2 linked regions of the Homo sapiens genome follow. The protein of the gene in region 2 interacts with the protein of the main gene of each other region in a pairwise test. Each region holds a gene or a part of one and is shown on either strand. Other genes may lie near its edges.

Evidence for each region. Proteins that work in one complex are often made in the same cells at the same time.
Region 1: the proteins of TEX11 (region 2) and MYEF2 interact in binary tests that used the Homo sapiens proteins (3 or more experiments, as listed by UniProt).

The regions. Positions count from the first base shown.
Region 1 is NC_000015.10:48,175,272-48,182,502, forward strand, and holds the start of MYEF2 (myelin expression factor 2), read right to left. Parts: upstream 3,025-7,231; 5' UTR 2,967-3,024; coding exon 2,806-2,966; intron 1-2,805. UniProt on the Homo sapiens protein: Transcriptional repressor of the myelin basic protein gene (MBP). Binds to the proximal MB1 element 5'-TTGTCC-3' of the MBP promoter. Its binding to MB1 and function are inhibited by PURA.
Region 2 is NC_000023.11:70,905,240-70,913,118, forward strand, and holds the start of TEX11 (testis-expressed protein 11), read right to left. Parts: upstream 3,473-7,879; 5' UTR 3,415-3,472; intron 2,572-3,414; 5' UTR 2,551-2,571; coding exon 2,514-2,550; intron 1-2,513. UniProt on the Homo sapiens protein: Regulator of crossing-over during meiosis. Involved in initiation and/or maintenance of chromosome synapsis and formation of crossovers.

The sequences.
Region 1 (7,231 bases), on a different chromosome or scaffold from region 2:
CTCAGAAGCAGAGAGTAGAAGGGTGTTTACCAGAGGTGGAGGGCAGCAGGGGATGGGGAAATGTTCTAAGGGCACAAACTTTCAGTTATAAGATGAGTAAGTTCTGTAGATCTAAGGTACAGTATAGTGACTATACTTAACATATTTACTGTATACTTGAAATTTGCTTAAAGAATAGATCTTAAGTATTTTCAACACCAAAAAATATGGTAGCTATGCGAGGTAACAGATACGTTAATTAGCGTGATTGTGGTAATCATTTCACAATTTATTTGTATACCAAACCATCACACTGTACACTTCAAAATATACAATTTTTGTCAATTTACCTCAATAAAGCTGGGGGAAACAGTTCTAGTCTTTATTCCTAATAAAAATCACTCAGCTAAAGAACACATTACCTTGCTCCAATGCTTAATATTTTATAGTACCCTAATATAACTCTCAATCTCTACCTACTCCAAAGTTATACTTAATTACACATGAATAATAAAGTTATAATAATACTGCTCTTTTCCCTCCTATTCATTTTTAAGAAAAGGAGAGCTAGTATACCATTTGGCGTTAAAGAAGAAGACTACAGTTGGAAAACGGATCTTTTCTAAAGGTGTGAATATGCAAACTAAATTCCCTGTATATGAGTTTCATAAGCATGAAAGTTCACTTCTGCATTTCTTCCACAAATATTTACTAGGCCTTAAGAATACAAAGAAGAATAAGACATAGTGGTCTCCCACCCTCAATAACTATGGATTAACCTCAGCAAATATTATTTCAATCCTGATGACAAGCAGTACTCTGTTCAATTCCAACCAATACATAATTTGGGGCAATATTATGGTAATTTTTATAATCAACAATGAATTATTTTTATTATTAAAAGTATATGGTAATCAACTCAAGGTTTATGTATTGGGGTTGTTATCCACTCCTACTAGTTCACGAAGTAAAAAAAAAAAAAAAAAAAAAAAGGACTAGGTCGCTAGTTATTCAGTTTGAATGACTCATGCTGGACCATCACAAATCTTCTTATGGAATAGACAGTAAGAGAAATCCCTGAGAGTAAATTGGACTCGATTCAACTTCTGGGAAAAAGAGAAAGGGAGAGGCGAATTATAAGCAATATGGAAATAATCTGTATTTACTAGTAATATTTCTTCATTTCTTCACCTTATATTTTTCTCTTCCTAAATTAGAAAAGGATTCTTTCTCCACCTTTCTCCTTTCTCTTTTCCTGTCTTGCTAAATCATGAAGAGACTTTAGAAGGGAATAGAAAATCTGATGGAGGTTTAGATACCAAACTTCCCCTATATCAAAACTAATCATACCCAAGTATAGGAGGGCTTCTCTCTGTAATTCAAGGCTGCACTTTTTGTTCAGGAGAAAAGGTGGCATGTATACTCGTGTTTAGATATGAATAGCACATATTTTTAAGTTTATCATTCCACCGGTTTTCATTTCTATTTTTAATGCCAAATTCCAGAAAGCCCACATTTTGGCAAGCATGGTAGAAAGCACTTCATTCCCTTTCTGGTTCCTCAATTACTGAGGTGCACCACTCTTCATCCAGGAATAAACTCCACTAAGTTCCAATCTCTTATACCTGCACCTCTATTCTCCTAGAAGATGCTGCCGATCCTGTTCAAACTCATTTGAGAGCAAGAGTGTCAAAGAGCTGGGGAGAGCTACCCCATCTTTTTTGCCACCAACTTTTACACAGACTGGTCCAGTTCTTACCATACAATTTCAAACATGCTTATACAAAGGTCAGAAAGACCTTTCCCTTGTCTATTTTACTGTGAGCATATATCTATTGCTTTCTGCTCTGAGGCATAACAGAGAAGGAAAAGGATGTTTTCACTTAATTATTAACATACTTTCAACTTCAGGTTTAAGGAGGTAGGCATATGAAAGTAAGCGCTTAACTTCATATCCTCCCACAGGACAGGAACAAAGGAGAGCATAACATTTCCCTAGAACCAGAAATTATTATGGATTGGGGTCAACTAAATTCTTTATAGGCACTGGTGACAGCTGCGACCTTAAAAGTCTTCCTTCATTTGGGAAAAAAAAAATCTTAACCATCTATTATACCAAACTTAAGATAATCATACACTGAGTTAAAAAAAAAAATACTCTCCACAGCTGACGCACATTACCCAGTGGGAAGGGAAGCCACGCACATCGCACATTTCCCTTTTTAAAGTACGTCTAGCCAATTCAAGAGTAACACAAAACATAGAGTCTAACAGCACATTATTAAACTTCCTCTCGGTATAAATCAGTTTAAAAATGAACATACACTTTAGAAAACAACAAAACACTAAACTTGTGAAGCTCAGAAAGAAGCCAGGAATATTCCTTTTAAATATGTTCTCGGTGGTTAAGAGGAAATGTCCGATGATGTCATCCCTAGATACTCCCTAGTGATGAACACTAACTACTGGTCCTTAAAGGGGGACCATTTTCCTGCAAACCGTGGCGGTCGCTGAGCTTTGCTCAAAGATTCTTTAACCAAAGTCAGGGAAGAGGGGTGTTCGCTGTCTCGGGCTAGAAATCAGGGAAGAGCGCTGGTCCCCGGGCCCCCAGCCCCGGCTCCCAGACCACAGGCGGCCAGGCCTGGGGCGGGCGGGGAAGGGCCTGGGAGCGGCCCAGCTGCACCTGCTCCTCAGGAAGCCGATGGCCCGGGGGCGGGCCGGGGTCTGGGGGTGGTTGTCCCCCATCGGGGCACAGCCCGGCCTCTAGCCGCCCGGTAGACTCCCCGCCCCCCACCTCGCCCCGGTTCCCGGAGGAAAAGACAATACATTTTAACGCCATTGGAGCTGCTGCTGTGCTGCGGCTGCTGCTTCTCCGCCTCCGCGGGGTGCGGCTCTCGCCGCGGCTCGCCCGGCGGCTCTGCGGGCTGCAGGTGCGGGCTGTCGCCACCAGTGGCCCCGGGCACCTCGGCCTTGTTGGCGTCCGCCATCCCGCCGCCGCTGCCTCCGCCTCGGCCGCCTGAGCTGAGGGGCTCCGAGCGCGACAATGGCGGCTGCCGGGGAAGCGGTAACGGATCCCGATTTGAAAAGGCCCCGAGCGCTCAGTAACCCGGATCTCGCGAGAACCGGTCGAGACTGGGTGACTGGGAGATGGTGTGTGCCGGGTGCGGGGGGTGGGAGTGCGGGGGGAGGGGAGCCATGGGAGCTGGGGTCAGGGCCGCTGTTGCTGCAGTCGGCCCTACACCTGCCTGGGAGGGCTGGACCAGTCCTGAAAGCCCCCGGTGGTGGTGCCATGTCTGCCCACCAGCCCGCCTGTCGCTTGGCACCAGTGGAGTCTTCGCTTGCAAAGCGGGATTAGACATCAAAGCCCTAACACCCAGACTGTTCAATTCATTCCAGGTAGGGGCAGTTAAAGAACACACCACTTTGCATCTTTAAAGACTTCTTGCAAGTCCTCAGACTGCCTTTAGAAATCCTTTGAATTAAGCAAATATAAGTCTCTTGCCATTTCAATGCCTAGGCACCCTTCGGACATTCCATAAATAGTTATTGATGACTGATTGCAATTCACCAAAAGGAATGACTTTGAATTTCTTTGAGAATTATTTGTTCTTAGGGGGTGAGGATTTCCCAGGAACTCAACTATCAGCTTAGTAAGAGAAGACTGCAGTTTTTCTCTGGACATCAATCAATATGGGGAATCCATAATTATAAAATATCGTCTACTAGATGGGCTAATAATGGACATTTGAGGTTTTGACTGTGTGTTTATTGTATACTGATGGAAATTCTAGTGAAGTAGTTAGTTATACGCTCTCAAATTTAATTGCCATATGGAGTTTTAAAATACAGTCGTAGATTTTTCCCCCTAAGTATGAAAAGGAAACCGTTAAATTTAATCAACTCCTAATTCTCGAGTACTATAATCTTTCACATTGACATAACCTTTTTCAGCTGAAAAGTTTAAATGCCTTCCCAAATTTTTTTTCCATGAAGAAGCAAACACGTACAGTTTAGTCACTTTGCAGAATATCATACACACATCAGTGGTAAAGTTATAGTTAGAAAGTAATACTCAAATAACATAATTTCATCTTCGGCTTTTCAATGTGTAGTTTCCTACCCTCTACCGAAAAATACCAAGTTCAGCTACTTCATCACACACACACATACACACACACACATACACAAACACACACACACATAATCAGAACATTTTAATGATAAGAATGCTATTGTAGTTGCTGTATAAATTGTTTCTCATTCAACTCTGAGACATAAGATTTATAATCGCAGAAAGGGCATTCAATTGTGACAGACAAAATCTGGGTTAGAACCCCAGCTCTGCCTCTTTTTGCCCATAACTCCCTGGGCAAGTCACCTCATTTCTCAATCTCTCTACAATAAATAGGGATAGCAATACCGACCTTACAGGATTGAGGTGAGGATTAAAAGAAAGCACTTTATGTAGGAAAAAGTGCTATATGAACATAATGTAATATTACAATTCTCTATCTCCCTAAGCTCAGCAGGGTTTTAGTCAAAGACAAGCCAAGTGATTTTTCCCACAGCACTAAATTATAAGTACTTTCAAAATAGTCATCATTCTGTTATTCTTTTGCTATTGTTGAATTCAGTATGAAAATTGAACCCCACCATCACCAGTACAATATATTCTTGCAAAAATCCTTTAATCAACTCAATGCAAGATTTTTTTAAGAGGCCTTTATGCTTCAAACAGAGTAGTAGGTACATGAGGAATACAAAAATGAGTACAGCCCTGTTGGGAGAGGGCTAATGTAAAAAGTACTATTTAAGTGCTATAATACAAATAAAAGCAAAGTATAATTAAAAAATTATTTACAAAAACAGGAGACTGGCCCACATGCCTTAGTTTGCCAATTAAAATATTCCATTAAAATATTTATCTTGATTACTGAGTTTTAACTTTTGTACCCAAGACAAATGCCTCACCCGCTGTAGCTTGGTTCTAGTCCTGATAAAGAGCAGAGGTTAATTCCTACTGAGAGATTGGTGAGGGCCTTATAAAAGAGCTGGATCTTAAAAGACAAAGAATTAAGGCAACTTCTGAAGGGAAGAGAATGATTAATCTTTACCATTCCATCTGACTGCTCAATAGATTGATCTTTCCTTCCTTTCTTGCTATTAATTGCAAAAGATAAAGAAAAAACTATTAATATTCTGTTGCTGAATTCCATTTCTGTATTTGCTTGTCTTCCTCTCTACTGTTTTGGTTTGTTTTGTTTTGTTTTGTCTTTTTTGAGATGGAGTCTCGCTCTGTCACCCAGGCTGGAGTGCAGTGGCGCCATCTCTGCTCACTGCAAGCTCCACCTCCCGCGTTCATACCGTTCTCCTGCCTCAGCCTCCTGAGTAGCTGGGACTACAGGCGCCCGCCAGCAGGCCCGGCTAATTTTTTGTATTTTTAGTAGAAACAGGTTTCACCGTGTTAGCCAGGATGGTCTCCATCTCCTGACCCTGTGATCTGCCTGCCTTGGCCTCCCAAATTGCTGGGATTACAGGCGTGAGCCAGAGCGCCCGGCCTTGGTTTTTTGTTTTTTGTTTGTTTGTTTTTTAGTGCATGTAGGTACATTGAAAAATTCTTAAGTGATGCTCAAATTCTTATTTTCCCATGATTCACATTGCAAAAGCATTATCCTTTGCAATTGCACAAAATATATTACTGGTACAACTTCACATAATCACTTAGTTTTCTTTCTTACAAATTAGAATGCATGTTTATGTGTGTGTACCTGGCGGGATAGGGGAAAAGCTATTACACGTATCTAGAAATCTAATCCTAGAAATCACAAAATATTTTCAATTAATACCTTAATATATGTATCACTTAGGAATTGTGTTCATCTGCTAATAACAATAACTAGAAATAATAGTGTCTTAAGCAAGATATACATTTTTACTCTCTTAAGTAAAATAAATGCAGAAGGAGCATCCCAGAGGATATATAGTAGCTTCACAGTCATCGTGAAGTCAGGTTCCTGCTACCTTAATCTTTCGCCATCCTAGTGTGAGGCTTCCATTCTTAAGGTTGCCCTATGACCCAAGATGGCTGCTGGAGATCGAGGCACCTTGTCGGCATTGTAGGTCAGAAGGAGTCCAGAAAAAAAGGGACCTATCCAGAAGTCTCACACAACACTTCCGCTTATGGGCAAGAACTTAGTCACATGACACACTCATCTGTGGGGGAGGTTGGCAAATAATTTGGGGGCTGGGCTTACTGCCCAGGGTTCTGTTACCAATGAAGAAGAGAATGGATGTCATCATTCTTCTTTTTTTTAATTTATTTTGTCTTTAAGAATTAAGTTTTAGGGATAATAATAAAATTTAAAAGAAAAAGAAACTAGACAAAAATGGTGGCTAACATTTCTATGGTGACAATAGCTTCTAAAAATACTTCCATATTTGTGCTGATATTCTAGCCCTAGAATTCATAATAAATAGATTACCTTCTCTGGGGTATTCAGAAACTCAAAAAAGAAAAAAGAATTAAACGGCAAAGACCAACAATATGAAGTAAAACAAAAAGTATGGTATAATTTTTAAGTCAATTTGCTTCACTATATAAATTGCTGGATTTGAAGGCATGAAGTTTCTAAACCTTACAAAGTAAAAATTTACCTCTTTAAAGCTTAAAAAGGAATTCGTAACTTTTTAAAATACTATGGTTTATATTTGAAATCTACATATGTATTTCCCTTTTTATAGAAAGTTCATTCTGTGATGAAAATGTGGACATTGGTTACTATCAAGTAGAAAGTAAAGTTTAATCTTATTCTGACGATTAGCTATTTACCATTCTCTCTCTTCTTCTCTTTTCCTCCTTTCTCTCTCTCTCTCCCTCCGTATCTCTGTATCACCCCCAATACACCCTCATTACACCACAGCTCTGCTTACTTTAGGAGTTCTTTTTTTTTAGCATTTAGCATTCCAAAAATACATCCTATACAAAGGTCTCTACCAGCTAGCTAAGTGAAGTTTAGAATTAAGACAATTATCTGAATAATCCAGGCAGAAACTCCACTTTTACCTCAATTATTCAAATAATTCAGAAAATAACCTCCATTGCCTTCAGGCATTGCCATTGGATTTCTGTCTGTGATCCTCCATTTCATGAAACTAAACAGAATCCAAAAATTGTACCGTATTACAGCCCTTTTCCTCAAGGGTCACACCATTCCTGATGGCTGCTTATGAGCCTAGTTTGGTGAAAGCTATG
Region 2 (7,879 bases):
TTGAACCCGGGAGGCGTGGAAGTTGCAGTGAGCCGAGATCGTGCCACTACACTCCAGCCTGGACGACAGAGTGAGACTCTGTCTCAAAAGAAAAAAAAAATCAGTCAATGTATTGAGGTAGTGAGTCATACCCAGCATTTCTTTTCAGTCAGACCTTTGCTGAATACCCAGCATTTTTTTAATGAGAAAAATAGAATAGAAAATATCATAGTGTACTGCATGTAATGAGGATAAAATTTTGTTTTATTAAACTTTTGACACAGTATGTATGTACTGGGATGTAATCAAAACATTTTCTTGCCATGAGTGGTAGTCAAAGATGTTTTTGAAAGTTTCTGTTAAACTCTCAGAAACACAGTGTTCGTTGTAGCATTGTTGTTTTTAACAGCAAATATTTGAAACCATTTTTATGTCCAACAAAGGAGACTGAATGAATAAATTGTGGTACATTTAGGTTCAATGAAATACTACTCATCAGCAGTGGAAATAAATGAACTAAAAGTATTCATATGGGTAAATATTAAAAACACAGCCTGGCACAGTGACTCACGCCTGTAATCCTAAGACTTTGGGAGGCTGAGGCAGGCAGATCACCTGAGGTCAGGAGTTTGAGACCAGCCTGGCCAACATGGTGAAACCCCGTTTCTACTAAAAATACAAAAAATTAGCCGGGCATGGTGGCACGTGCCTGTAATCCCAGCTACTCGAGAGGCTGAGGCAGGAGAATCGCTTGAACCTGGAAGGCAGAGGTTGCAGTGAGCCGAGGTCACACCATTGCACTCCAGCTTGGGCAACAAGAGCAAAACTCTGTCTCAAAAAAAAAAAAAAAAAAAAAAAAAAAAAAAAAAAAAATATATATATATATATATATATATATATATATATATATATATATCACAATGCTGAGCAAAAAAAGGAAAAAAGAAGACAAGCTGCAGGAAAAAGAAATATAAAATAACTATTTATATAAAATTTAAAAAGAAAAATGGTACATGTAATCTTTTAGTTCTTTGAAATATCTGAAGCATATGGCAAGCTTAAGATTTGACAAAACTCAGTGGTAGGTACACAGATGTTCATTATATTATTTTCTATACTTTTCTGTGTGATTCAAATATTTATGTAAATACAAAGTCTCAAATATTATCAACTTAAGAGTCATAATCCCTATTCCATCTTTATACCTTTAAGATATTTTATCCTAATTTAAAACTTAAAGTAGATAGTAGCAGGCTTTATTGTTATTGTTTTAAAATAACAAATATTGGCCTGGCATGGTGGCTCACACCTGTAATCCCAGCACTTTGGGAGGCCGAGGCAGGTGTATCAACTGAAGTCAGGAGTTCGAGACCAGCTTGACCGACATGGTGAAACCCTGTCTCTACTAAATGCAAAAAATTAGCCAGGCATGGTGGCGCGGGCCTGTAGTCCCAGCTACTTGGGAGGCTGAGGCAGAAGAATCGCTTGAACTCAGGAGGCAGAGGTTGCAGTGAGCCAAGATGGCACCACTGCACTCCAGCCTGGGCAACAAGAGCAAAACTGTCTCAACAAACAAACAAACAAAACAAGCAAACAAAAAAAAGTATTAACAAAATGTTGACCTAAACTTTTTAAAATCATAGATTTGTAGCCACATTTCTTACCACATATTTCATTATTATATGAATGTGAAGGTACCACAGGTCTCATTATTCCCCAAAAACAAAGATAGTACCACAAACTCTCCTATATCTAGCACAGTTGAGGAATCTGGTGTTCTGGTCAGTCAAATTGCTTTTGTTTATTGAGAGTTCCCATAAATAGCAAACATGGATTACCAATTTTCAAAAGAATTAAGACACAATAAAATGTACTTAAGTCTAAAACTACACAGGATATAATTTATTTTTCACGGATGATTATGGAAAGGAACTCCAAGATCTTGCAGTAATTTTTTAAACTTATTTTTATTGCAATAGATTTATCTTCCAGATTAAACGTTTTATTTTGCATGCCATAAAAATCCTGAAAAAAAAACAAGTTATGAATTGTGAATTCTGTCTCCCTACACTAGTTCATAAAAAGGTTCCCAATGTGTTAAAAATAGACATTGTTTCTGGTACATAAATGAGAAAACCTGGTGCTATGGACACTGCAGAAAGACAAAACTCAGAAACAAAATATTTAGATTTTTTTTTTTTTTTTTGAGACGGAGTCTCACTCTGTCGCCCAGGCTGGAGCGCAGTGGCGCAGTCTCTGCTCACTGCAAACTCTGCCTCCCAGGTTCAAGCGATTCTCTTGCCTCAGCCTCCTGAGTAGCTGGGATTACCACGCCCAACTAATTTTTGTATGTTTAGTAGAGACGCGGTTTCACCATGTTGGTCAGGCTGGTCTCGAGCCCCTGACCTCGTGATCCGCCCGCCTCGGCCTCCCAAAGTGCTGAGATTACAGGCGTGAGCCACCGCGCCCAGCAATATTTAGATCTTAAAGCAGCAGTTTGACACTATTTTGTACTACCACGTAGAGCTACGTACCTTTAAAGTCCATGGAAAAAAAATCATCATTGTCCATTTTTAAATCTCTGGCTCAAGCCTGTGAAATAATAACATATTTTAATACTCTGTTTTATCCTCTAGTTTCTCAACAAATTTCTTTCCAGTGAAATGTTTCCCGTTACTTGTTATCCAAAGGGAGAAAAAAAGGCTGAGTAAAGTTAAAAGCCCATGAAAGGGCTTTTGTGAGGGGCAGGGCCAGGCTGCCAAGTTACATAAAAGGGACCTTTTCTTACCATAAGTCTGCCTGGCAACGGGGGAAATGGAGCTGAGTGGTACCCTGTTATTGGTCTGGCTGGGTCTCGCTGCTTCTTCCTAATTGGCTCAAAATCCGCTTCCGCTACCAACCGCACATTCAAAGCATCCAATCACTCACGGTCCTTTTTCCCGCTCTGTGAGAACGCTAGCACCTTCAGTATCCTGCCCCCAACGGTCATGAACAGTCCTGCTTCAACGTAATTTAGGTCCTTCAGCATCTAAACAACAATAACTACTATCTCCGGTTTTCAGTGGCCCACCACAACTCCCCATACTCCTCCATCCTCATCAAAAAACATTACATTGCCCCCAACGGTCATCAACAGTCCCGCTTCAACGTAATTTAGGTCCTTTAGCATCTAAACTACAGTAACTACTATCTCCGGTTTTCAGTGGCCCACCACCGCTCCCCATACTCCTCAATCCTCGTCCAAAAACATTACATTTGCCCATCTTCGTTCGCCTTGAGAGCGACGAGCAGTTCTGTAGTACAAAGTCACTGCCTTAGGGCCGCTCTAAAAAGTTTTGGCCTAATGGCTATAATATATTCTTGCTAGTTATAAACTACCCAACTAACTTGTGCTTGAAGCCTATTCTACCCCTTCCTGCCCACTAAACCACTCACCTCAGCCGCAGCCACCAATGCCGCCCTGCTCTCTCCACAACCTCCGTCCACAGCGCACGAGGACGTTCAGAAAACTCCGCCCCCTAGCGACGCTAGCGGTGTCACGCTAGGCCACTAAAGCCACTCCCACTTGGCCTTTACGCTGTGTCACGGAGCCTAAGCCTTGCGACCCAGTCTAGACCTTAGATCCTGGGGATGCAGTTCAGAGAGTCAGTCACTTGGTGAGTTCAGGGTGAGAATAACTGAGAGTAAGCAAATATGATGTAATTCTGAAAGCATAAGACAATGAATTGAGGGAAAAGTGCAGATGGCCAGGATTACCAAAAGGAGAGCAGGACTTCACACACACAAAAAAAAGAACAGAAAAAGAAATAAAGCAAGTAGACATTGTTGATCACTGGTTATGCAAGAGTGGCAAAGGTCAGAAATAGCAGAAATATTAGAAGCTGAGGAGACTAGTCGAGGCCAGCCTGATCAACAAGCCAGACTGCACCTGAACCAAAAAAAAAAAAAAAAAATCCAGGTGTGGTGGCACACGCCTGTAGTTCCAGCTACTTGGGAGGCTGAGGTGGAAGGATCATTTGAGCCTGAGAGTTTAGGTCCAATAAGCCATGATCCCACCACTGCACTCCAGCCTGGGAGACAGCGAGATCATGTCTCTTAAAAATAAAAAATAAGTCGGGGGCAGTGGCTCACGCCTGTAATCCCAACACTTTGGGAGGCCAAGGCAGGCGGATCACCTGAGATCGGGTGCTCCAGACCAGCCTGACAAACATGGAGAAACCCCGTCTCTACTAAAAACACAAAATTAGCTGGGCGTGGTGGTGCATGCCTATAATGCCAGCTACTTGGGAGGTTGAGGCAGGAGGGAGAATCGCTTGAACCCGGGAGGCAGAGGTTGTGGTGAGCCGAGACATTGCACTCCAGCCTGGGCAACAAGAGCAAAACTCCGTCTCAAAAAATAAATAAATAAATAGGCCGAGCACGGTGGCTCACGCCTGTAATCCCAACACTTTCGGAGGCCGAGGCGGGTAGATCACCTGAGGTCGGGAGTTGGAGACCGGCCTGACCGACATGGCAAAACCCCGTCTCTACTAAAAAAAAAAATACAAAATTGGCTGGATGTGCTGGCGCATGCCTGTAACCAGCTACTCGGGAGGCTGAGGCAGGAGAATCGCTTGAACCCGGGAGGCAGAGGTTGCGGTGAGCCGAGATCGCGCCATTGCACTCCAGCCTGGGCAACAAGAGCGAAACTCCGTCTCAAAAAATAAATAAATAAACAGGCCCAGCGCGGTGGCTCACGCCTGTAATCCCAGCACTTTGGGAGGCTGACGCAGGCGGATCACCTGAGGTCGGGAGTTGGAGACCGGCCTGCCCAACATGAAGAAACTCCGTCTCTACTAAAAAATTACAAAATTAGCCAGGCGTGGTGACACATGTCTGTAACCAGCTACTCGGGAGGCTGAGGCAGGAGAATCTCTTGAACCTGGGAGGCGGAGGTTGCGGTGAGCCAAGATGGCACCATTGCACTTCAGCCTGGGCAACAAGAGCGAAACTCCGTCTCAAAAAAAATGAAAATAAAATAAATAAAAATAAAAAATAAAAATAAAAAAAGCCTTTTAGTTCCAAGACGTTTCTGTTGCCCTGCCTTTGTCCAATCATTAGGAAACTAGGAGACTCCCCTGCAGTCTCACAGCAAGCTCGCATGTCCCACCCATCTCCAAACCAAATGGCTTGAGGGGTGGAATATGTAAGTAAAAATTTGATTCCAGCTAAATCTAAGCATGATGCTAATCTCCACTCAGAGATAACAGTGTGAAAACATGATGCCTCCAGATTTGTAGACAAACACAGAATCAAAACATTAATAAGCCTCCCACTTCTTCCTATATACCCCTCTTTTAAGCCTTGTGCACCTCAGGCCAGATATGGAGCTGGCTAACAGGATAAAGAAGAGAGATTGTGGCTCCAGTTTCTGGGAACATTAACAGAGTTCCTTCCTGATCCTGAAAGTCTCAGAATCAGTCATTAGATCTCGTGGACAAGATGAGGTTACTAAAAGTAATTTATTTTCCCTCTTCAAAATTGTATCTAGATTGCATAGTACAATGAAGAAAAATGGGAAAACAGAAAGTACTGCTATTAATTCCTCTTCTTTTGCATCCTGCAGTTTGGTATGTCTTTATTTCATAACCCTCGATTGCCATATTAGGGAAAGAATTCTGGTGAAAAGGAGCAGTGGAGTATGCCACAGTTGACTGACTCTCCATGCACCATATACTGTGTGGCCTTGAGCCAGCTTTAAGAATCTTAGCATCTAAATTGGGCATGGTGATTCACACCTGTAATCCCAACACTTTGGGAAGCTGAGGCAGAAGGAATCCTTGAGCCCAGGAGTTCAAGACCAGCCTGGGCAACATAGTGAGACCTTGTCTCCATACAAAAAAAGATAATAATAATAATTAAAATTTAAAAAGAGGCTTAGTGCAGTGGCTCACACCTGTAATCCCAGCACTTTGGGAGGCCAGGGTGGGAGGATCACTTCAGCCCAGGAGTTTGAGACCAGCCTGGGCAAAACAATGAGACCACATCTCTAATTTTATTTATTTATTTATTTTTTGAAATGGAGTCTCGCTCTGTCACCCAGGCTGGAGTGCAATGGTGCGATCTCAGCTCACTGCAACCTCTGCCTCCTGGGTTCAAGAGATTATCCTGCCTCAGCCTCCTAAGTAGCTGGGATTACAGGCACCCGCCACAAAGCCCAGACAATTATGGTATTTTTAGTAGAGATGGGGTTTCACCATGTTAGTCAGGCTGGTTTCGAACTCCTGACCTCAGGTGATCCATCCGCCTCAGCCTCCCAAAGTGCTGGGATTACAGGTGTGAGCCACCGTGCCCAGCCTCTATTTAAAAAAATACGTATATATTAAAACAATCTTAGCACCTCAATTTCCTCATATGTACAATGGGAATAAAAGTAATTCTAGGCTTCTGGTTCAATAGAATAATGCACATAAAGCATCTAGAACAATGGGTGGCTGGCATATAGTAGTAGTCACTTAACAAATGTTAGTTCCCATTATCATTTCCCATTTCCTGGTTGACAAACTTCCTACTTCCATTATCCCACCTAAACCCCTGGTTCCACCATAGCTTCTTTGTTCATGGATGAACAGATGAACAAGTAAGGTGATAATTAGAACTCAGCTCTCAAGACTACAAGCAGCCCTTTCACATGCATCTTAGAGTTCTTAATGATTAATAACGTCTGCGGTAGAATGGATATTATACTATTCAGCATTATATAAGGCATATAGGAATCACATGATTCTATTGATGAATACCAGTTGTAAATATGACTCCAAAGTTAGGGCTACTGAGCTGACGCCAGTGCACTGAAAGGGCCAGTGAATAAAGGAAAATGTACGGAAAGGGTGAAAACCCTGATAATACATGGATATCTTCAAATTTTTTTTTGTTTGTTTTTATCCAGATGGCCTTCCTAGATGTTACAAGTAAATGAAAATTAAAAGAAACAGAAGAAAAAAGTAAAAGAGAGAGAAAAGGAGAGCAGATAAAAGAAGCAGGTACATATTGAGGTGGATAAGCAAGAGTGAGCAGTAAAATGCCATTAAGTAGCACTCAACATGCTGTGGATTATCTTCCTTTACCCTCCTAACATAAGCTATAAGTTTTCTGTCCTACCCTTTAACAAAATGTTACAGAAATGGTGAAATACATGGTACATAAGATGGTTGAACAGCTTGGACTCTAATGAGAGCCTATTAAAACTCTCATCAATAGAGTGGATTAAAAGACAGTTAGCAACCAAGAACACAAATTAGTTAATAAAGTAGCATTACGCCCTGTTAAAAGAAGAGAAAGACTTCCAGAATAAACATGCAATTACAGTCAGGAAAATTCTAAAAACAAAATCATTAATGGAGGGAGGAAGAGGAGCTTGTTCTTCCAGATATTAAAACTATTGCAAATAAAATTGTGTGGTAATAGTGCAGACAGATAAATGAACAGAATAGAGTCCAGAAACAGACCCAAATATACATAGAAATTATTGAAATCAGTGGGGCAAAGAATTATTCAAGAAAAAGTGTTGAAATGACTTTAGAGCCATTTGTTAAAAAAAAAAACTAGATCCTTACCTCTCATTTCATATACCAAAATAAATTCTACATTAATCAAAAATTAAATCCAATCATAAAATTTCTATTAAAAATAGGTGTGAATATCTTATAGCTTTATTAATATACTAAGACGTAGTAGTTTTTTTTTTTTAATTTTACCTAGTTGGCAAGATCTAAATATGATCTGGAAACCCAAATCAAAAAGGGAAAACAGTAAGTTTTACTGCATAAAAAATAACTCTTCTGAGTGGCACTATAAGCAAGGTTGAAAGACAAACCACAGACTAAAAAAAGATTTTTTCAACATATGTAACAGATAAAGA